Linked DNA regions of Homo sapiens. The protein of the gene in region 1 interacts with the protein of each later gene in a pairwise test. Each region holds a gene or a part of one and is shown on either strand. Other genes may lie near its edges. The genes, in order: MAP3K7CL and USF1.

Region 1 (3,917 bases):
TAGTAGCTGGGACTATAGGTGTGTGCCACCACACCTGGCTAATTTTTGTATTTTTAGTAGAGATGGGGTTTCACCATATTGACCAGGCTGGTCTTATCCACCCGCCTCAGCCTCCCAAAGTGCTGGGATTACAGGTGTGAGCCACGGCACCGGGCCAATGGCATTACTTTCAATAGCAATCCCAATTACACCACCAGCAGCACATAGACAGCCTCTCTGTGAGAACAGAACCTAAGCAAGAACTATCACTTGCAGTGTCAACAGACCAGAAGAAAATGCAGGCCAGGCGCCGTGGCTCACGCCTGCAATCCTAGCACTTTGGGAGGCTGAGGCGGGCGGATCACTTGAGGTCAGGAGTTTGAGACCAGTCTGGCCAACATGGCAAAACCCCGTCTCTACTAAAAATACAAAAATTATCCGGGCGTGGTGGCACATGCCTGTAATTCCAGCTACTAGGGAGGCTGAGATGGGAGAATCGCTTGAACCCAGGAGGTGGAGTTTGCAGTGAGCCGAGATCACATCACTGCACTCCAGCCTGGGTGACCAAGGGAGACTCTGTCTCAAAAAAAAAAAAAAAAGGAAAGGTAGAGGGAGAGCTGAATTGTTCTTCATGCTGAAAAGAAGACATATTGGTGGGGGTGGGAGTGGGGAAGGGAGAGACTATGGTTAAAAATTAGAAGCCAGGAGAGCTGGGTTGAGAACCCTGCATGGAGGATAGAAAAAAGAGGGAGACGTGATGGCTGATAGCTAGAGAGGAAATTTTAGGGGACGACAGAGCTCTTTTGACAGCTGTGTGGTGATCAGTGTAACCCTCCGACCTCCTATACAATTTTCAGTAATACCTACATAACTGATAATGCTCTGTTGAGCAGCTTTCTGTTGGAAAGCTGAGACAATGCCCAGGACTGCTACAAAGGTGAGAATGAGGACTCCTCCAAGCGGCCAGATCACACCTGAGTCACCCTCAGTTGGTTTTTAGAGACCACCCTGGCAGTAGAACACCAGCTCTTCAAACCTGACCTGGTTGCTGCCAGGTTTTTAACACAGTGCTCTGCATACTGAGGTAAGAACAGAAGCAAACAAAAAGGAACACTATCTTGGCTTGCGGAAGGGCTCATTCTTGGTTCTTCTTCCACCTCTGTTGAGGGCTGTCCAGGAATAAGAATGCCAAACTCAAATGACGTTAGGACACAAGGCACACCCACAAATGGGAAAAGCTGCTGTGTGTAAGATAATAGGGTATGTCAGGGCCTGTTGGGAACTGGAGGTTACAAACCCCTCCTAAAGGCTTTCAAAATCAATATTTAGGAGAAAAAAGTGGTGACTAAGAAATGTCTGTGTACAGGATTCAAGACCCCTATTGGACTTGCCTAAATGTGACTACAAAGTTAAGTATTCAAGTGAATGGCTGGCCCAAGGCCAGTATCCTGGTATTTTAGACAGAACCTCTTCTGAAAGCCATTTTTGCCTGGAATCACCATGGATAATCTAAAGAAAATTAAAATGTGATAAATGAGCTCCTTTCAAATAATTCTGGTGTATTAAAATATCTTTCAACAGATCACTCAGAAACTACATATACAAAATAATTTGTCATGGGTCCAACAAGTCAATTTTCAGAAGGTTTAAGTTAAAATAGTTATATTCCATTAAAAGTTGTCAGAGAACTGGGGAAGGGGCAGGGAACAGAGAAAGGAAGATTATTCCAAAGTCTTGGCAAACATGGTAAGTCTTCTCTGCAGAGTTTAATACTAAATCACTAACCCCAGACAAGCCAAAAATGCAATGACCTAGAGACAGCCATATCGAAGTAGAGAAGGGACCCGTCCTTTTCCCAGGCTCCAGAACCCCTTAAAAATAGGAGCCAGTTTATGCTATAAGCACTTGCTGTCCTGGTGCCATAGCCAGATAACCAGACAGGGGCATTCCATGAGGGCTTCAGCCTGACTTTGGAGCTCTAGAAATGTAATCCTTGATGACTTCAAAGCCCCACATTCTGGGTCCAAGTCAGTCTCCCCTAGTCAGGCCACTCTCTGCCCAGCTCGCTATACTTTATGACACTAAGGAGGAAAGAAGAGAGACTTTAGAAAAATCCTTACCTGTAGCTGCTGGTCTAATTCTGGAAAGACCAAAGGAATGGAGTCTTCAGGGGGTGTATCATCTAAAACAAGGAAATAAAATGATTCTTCACTATGGAGCTCTTTCTTGTAGGAGTCCTTGGACTCCCCCAGAGTTAGACCATCAGTATACACTGTTTCAGTCATTTCATCACTTCAGTTGGGGACAGACAGAATGTAAAGGACAATTTTGCTCATTTTCTGTACACACAGATGCGTGGAGAGCTTAGGTCGCCTGAACAAAATTTTGCAAGCAAATATCAGAATCCTCAAATGTCCAGGCTGGCAGCTCTCCAATTAAGAAGGACTGCTTGTCTTTCAATACTCTTACATTGGCCAAAACCAAAAAATATGATATGAAACAAAATGCTTTAACAAGGTGCTAATGAGGTGGCCAGAAGGACTTTAATGGGACAGGAGAACATGTTAGTGAAAAGTAGAAGCATTCGTTCTGCTCTGAATGACTCCAAGTGCCACAAGCTGTGATGGTATTGCTGTCTGCTCCTACCACAAACCACACTAACAGGCAGTTAACCAGAAACTCATTCTGGGTTACAGTGAGAAGCAGGCAGCAACCCAAATGGGGCGTTTCTTTCCAATACACCAGGCAGCACTCCTACCCTGCAGCAGAATTCACAGCTTTGTTAGGGAGCGCCAGAGCCCAGAGAGTCCCGAAAGACCTCCTAACTCATGCTTACGTTGACTGGTTGGCAATAGGCAGCTGTTGCTGGATGGCAAGATGCAGTTCTAAGAAGCATTTGAGGAAACCTGACCAAAATATGGGTCAAAATATCCAAGTCACCCCCAATCTCTTCAAGAACATAGTGCTGACCGAGCCTTGGTGCTAGAAAGCAGAACTTCCATTATCTCCAGGTACTCTCTGGCTCTAAGGTCCATTGGCCACTCATTTCCAATCCCTACCCTAGTACATACACAGTACACATATATGTACAGTAAAGGTACAGTACAGATACATATACAGTACACATACAGTATACCTACACATACATATATAATAGAGATACAGTACAGGTATATATACAGTACACATATACATACAGTACAGGTACAGTACAGATACATATACAGTACATACATATAAAATACAGACACACATACAGTATACCTACACATACATATATAATAGAGATATAGCACAGATACATATACAGTACACATATACATACAGTACAGGTATAGTACAGATACATATACAGTACATATACATATGCAATACACATACAGTACACATGCACATACACAAACATATATAATATATAATAGAGATACAGTACAGATACATACACAGTACACATACATATACAATACAGATACAGTACACATACACATACATATAATAGAGATACAGTACAGATATACAGTACAGATATATACAGTACAGATACAGTTAGGTTTATACAGTACACATATACAGTACAGATACAGTTAGATATATACAGTACACATACAGATACAGCACAGATACATACATACACAGTACACATACATATACAATACAAATACACATACAGTACACATACACATACATATACAATAGAGACAGTACAGATACATATACAGTACACACATACAGTACAGGTATAGTACAGATACATATACAGTACACATATACATACAGTACAGATACATACACAGTACACATACATATACAATACAGATACAGTACACATATACATATATAATAGAGATACAGTACAGATGCATATACAGTACACATGTATACAGTACAGATACAATAAGATATGTACAGTACACATACAGATACAATACAGATACATA
Region 2 (3,917 bases), on another chromosome or scaffold:
TTTGAACAATTTTATCTTAAAAAAAAAAAAAAAAAAAAAAAAAAAAGAAAAGAAAAAAAAAAAACGACCCCCACAAGGGGGAAGGCCCCAAGTGGGCCCCTGCCTGTTGTTCTCTCTGGCTCCAGAGATGTCTGCATAGGCCTCAGCTTCTCACTGGCCAATCTCCTCTTCATGGGCACCAGCCACTGCTAAACATCCTTCCCTCACTTCTTGTGTAAGCTTGCTCCCCTGAGCCACAGGTTGCACATCTAAACCTCAGCTCCAGGGAAAGGAAGAACCAATGGAAGTGCCAGAGTCCTGGGGCAAGCCAGAGCATCACCTGTCAGCAAACCTCTGCTGGGCACTCTAAGCAAGCACAGGACAAGCCCCAGAGTTTAGTGTGTCCAGTATCCAGCATGGAGACAGCACATGCATTGTGCGAGAGGAGCACAAGGGCCCAGGGGCTGCATGGTGGGGGTGGGCAAGGCTGTCAGTGCACGTCCACATTGTGTGTTTCACACCACTGCAGGCCGCCATATCACAGGGCCTCAGTTCAAGGACACACCTTCTGAACTTCCCCCTGTCCCATGCCAGAAGTGGGGCAGTGAAGGAAAGGGGCACGGGATTAGGCTGTTGCTCCTGGGCTATCTGCAGTTCTTGGGCCCAAAGCCCCTGAATCCCCATAGTTAGTTGCTGTCATTCTTGATGACGACCTCTAATCCGTGGTGCCGCAACTGAGCTCGAAGCAGCAGATTCTTGTTTTTAAGATCTTCCACCTGACATGGGAAGGAGGCAGTAAAGGGAATGGGTAGTAAAGCTGGCACTTCCAAGCCCCTGAATGTATTCAGACATCCACTGGTGAGGGGGAAAAGATGAAGCCTTCTCCATGGAGAACAAAGTAGAGGGTGTCAAACTGGGTCAGTGGCTAGCAGAACTGAGAAGGGCTGCACTGGGGGTAGGAGTCTGACCTGTTGTCGAAGCACGTCATTGTCCAGCTGCAGTTGGTCAAGTCCCTGCAGTTCTTCAGACAAGCGGTGGTTACTCTGCCGAAGCTCCTGGATATAATCACAAGCTTTGGATAGAATCCCACCTTTACTCTGCAAGATAAGGTCAACAAAATGAGAACTAGGATTTCAGATACCCAGCTTGCTTTCCAAAAGTAGGTTCACACTTTGGACCTCATTTTCATCTAAGGAAGGTGGTATAATATCTCCCAGGGATACAGGAACCTCAGGGAGAGATAAGACTACTGTCATGTGTGCCCCTCTCTCTACCATTTCTGGAAACAATACCAGGAGGCAGAATTCAGGCATCCTGCCCACTACCAGGGTCTTTCCATGACCTGGCCAGACTTGGTGCTCTCCATAGAGCAGTCTGGGATTATCTTGGAGAGCTGCACGATCCAGTTGTTGATCTTGTCTCGGCGGCGACGCTCCACTGTGGGGCAAAGTGGAGGACAAGGTGACTCAGTGAAAACTCGCCACAAGTCCCAGGGTAAAATTACCTAATCCCTCCTCCCCTCAGACATCACTGCTGAGATCACACCAGACAGCTTCTAGCTCCACCCAGATCATACCTACCTTCATTATGCTGAGCCCTGCGTTTCTCATCCCGAGTCGTCCGGGGAGCTTCTGACTTCCTGACAACAGAGCCCAGGGTGGCCAGAGTAAGAAGACAAAATACATGATTGAAGTTTGGGGTTAAGGAATTATACAAGATTTAGCAGGTATTAGGACCACTTATGGTAGCTAGGTGTGGTGTCTCACACCTGTAATCCCAGCACTTTGGGAGGCCGAGGCAGGCGGATCACTTGAGGTCAGGAGTTCGAGACCAGCCTGGCCAACATGGTGAAACCCTGTCTCTACTAAAGATACAAAAATTAGCCAGGGGTGGTGGTACATGTCTGTAGTTCCAGCTACTCAGGAGGCTGAGGCATGAGAAACGCTTGAACCCTGGAAGCAGAGGTTGCAGTGAGCTGAGATCATGCCACTGCACTCCAGCCTGGGTGACAGAGCAAGACTCTGTCTCAAAAAAAAAAAAAAAAAAAAAAAACCACTTACGGAATCTGAGAAGAAACAAGGGTCACTCACGGGGAATAAGGGTGAGTCCTAGGGGCAATTGAGCGCTGGCTTCCTCCCTGCAGTACTTCTTGTGGTGACATCATCACAAAGAATTGACCTGTGAAGATGCAGGGTAGGTTCTGTCAGGACATGGGTAGGAACCTCACCAAGCCCTGAGGTGAAGACCCTGGTCCCCTCCTCTAAAAAGAACATGCTAATAGAAGAGCAGCCCCAGACTCACTGCCTGTCCAGGTCTTAATGATCACTAAGAGTCATGAGTGAAGGCTCACTGCCTACCAGTCATGTCCCACAGCCTATTCTAGCCCTTTCAGCCAGCATCCTCATGCAATATCTCACCAGTGCCAGGAGGGGTCGCCTGCCCCAGCAGTGCCTCTGAGCCCTGGGTAGTAACAACAGCAGCTGTACTCCCCGATGTGGTACCCCCTGCCCCATCTCCCACTGCCGTGCTGGGGAAGTAAGTATAGTGCGTCTCAGCAGCTGTCCCCTCCGTGTCAACTGCATCATCACTGGTGAAAGCACCCTGGATCACCGCCTGGGAAGGGGAGCAAGAAAACTGATTCTGGTAACAGTCAAAAACTTCTTCCCACTACACCACTCTGCAGCTTCTATCCGTTGGGGTGGTAGGTAGGGTGGAGAGAGAGAGAGAGAGAGAGAGAAACATCCAGAAAAGGAGAGCCTAGTGCTTTGGGACAAGGCAGCCTTAGATGCCTCACTGTTCCTAGCTTCACCCCCATCCTACTGATTCCCTTCTTCATCTTACTTCTCAGAACTCTAGTGACCTCCCCAGCCCATACCCTGTACCTGGGTCATGGATTGAGTGGCAGGGTAGCCACTGATGGCGCCAGTTCCCTCAGTTTGGCCATCCAGCTGCCCCTCAGACACCTGGATCACCCTGTACATCACCTAGAAGTGTAGAGGAAGGCAGAGGGAGTGAAGAGAGAAGAAAAGATTAAGTGTTGGGAATCCTAGGGCCCCTCATAAAGCTTCCCTTGGATAGGGCCCCAAAACAAAGTCCTTCAGAGACATGGATTCAGCCATTCTCCCTTCTTTCCCCACACAGAGGTTTCAGCATACATCTAACCTCACACCAGTCTCTACTCCAGTATTAGCACCTCCCTCCCCTGCAACAGTCCACTCTTTCAACTCATCCTCCAAGCCAGGTCTCCCCAAGACATGTTCAATTACCTCCCTCAATCCCAACCCCAGATAACACCTGCAGCCACCTGGCCCCCTCCCTTACCTGGCCCCCATTCTCAGTTCGGAAGACGTACTTGACGTTGGGGTCAGGGAAGGTGGCAGCTGACTGGATGCTGGCAATAGCCACACTGGTTGGGTCTTCCCCAGTAGCCACTGCACCTGAATTAAAAGAACAAAGGAAAAGTCTGTGAGTTAACTGCCTTTCTACCCCCGTTCCATTTGCATGTCACGGAAGGAGGAGGATGCACAGGAGATGGTCTGGTGGGGAAGGAAGGGAGGCCATGATGGGTTCTTAGTCTTGGTTCTGTTTCTAGCACTCACCTTCCTGAATCTGCACTGTCCCCTCTTCCGTTTCAGCTGTTTTCTGCTGCCTGTTTGTGGTGAAAGGACAAAAGGAAGAGTATGAGAAGAAGTCAATGAGAAGCTCACTGGCCCAGTAACATATGGCTGCAAACTCATTGGCATTCCCAACAGAAGCTGGGTTAGGTTAGAATAACAACTAGTGTTTACTGTTTACTATGTACATAAGCACTAAGCTAAGTACATTACATGTAATCTTATTTAGTACTAAAAACAGCACCACGAGATAGATAGCACTACTTCCATTTTATAGATAGAGAAACCAAATCACACAGTAAGTGATAGAGTAGAACCTGAATC

Evidence for each region.
Region 2: the proteins of MAP3K7CL (region 1) and USF1 interact in binary tests that used the Homo sapiens proteins (3 or more experiments, as listed by UniProt).

Annotation. Positions count from the first base shown.
Region 1 is NC_000021.9:29,147,433-29,151,349, reverse strand, and holds part of MAP3K7CL (MAP3K7 C-terminal-like protein), read right to left. Parts: intron 2,162-3,917; coding exon 2,100-2,161; intron 1-2,099.
Region 2 is NC_000001.11:161,039,255-161,043,171, forward strand, and holds part of USF1 (upstream stimulatory factor 1), read right to left. Parts: intron 3,629-3,917; coding exon 3,579-3,628; intron 3,419-3,578; exon of another isoform or gene 3,417-3,418; coding exon 3,301-3,416; intron 2,964-3,300; coding exon 2,862-2,963; intron 2,593-2,861; coding exon 2,397-2,592; intron 2,158-2,396; coding exon 2,070-2,157; intron 1,619-2,069; coding exon 1,560-1,618; intron 1,417-1,559; coding exon 1,322-1,416; intron 1,077-1,321; coding exon 948-1,076; intron 756-947; coding exon 666-755; 3' UTR 1-665.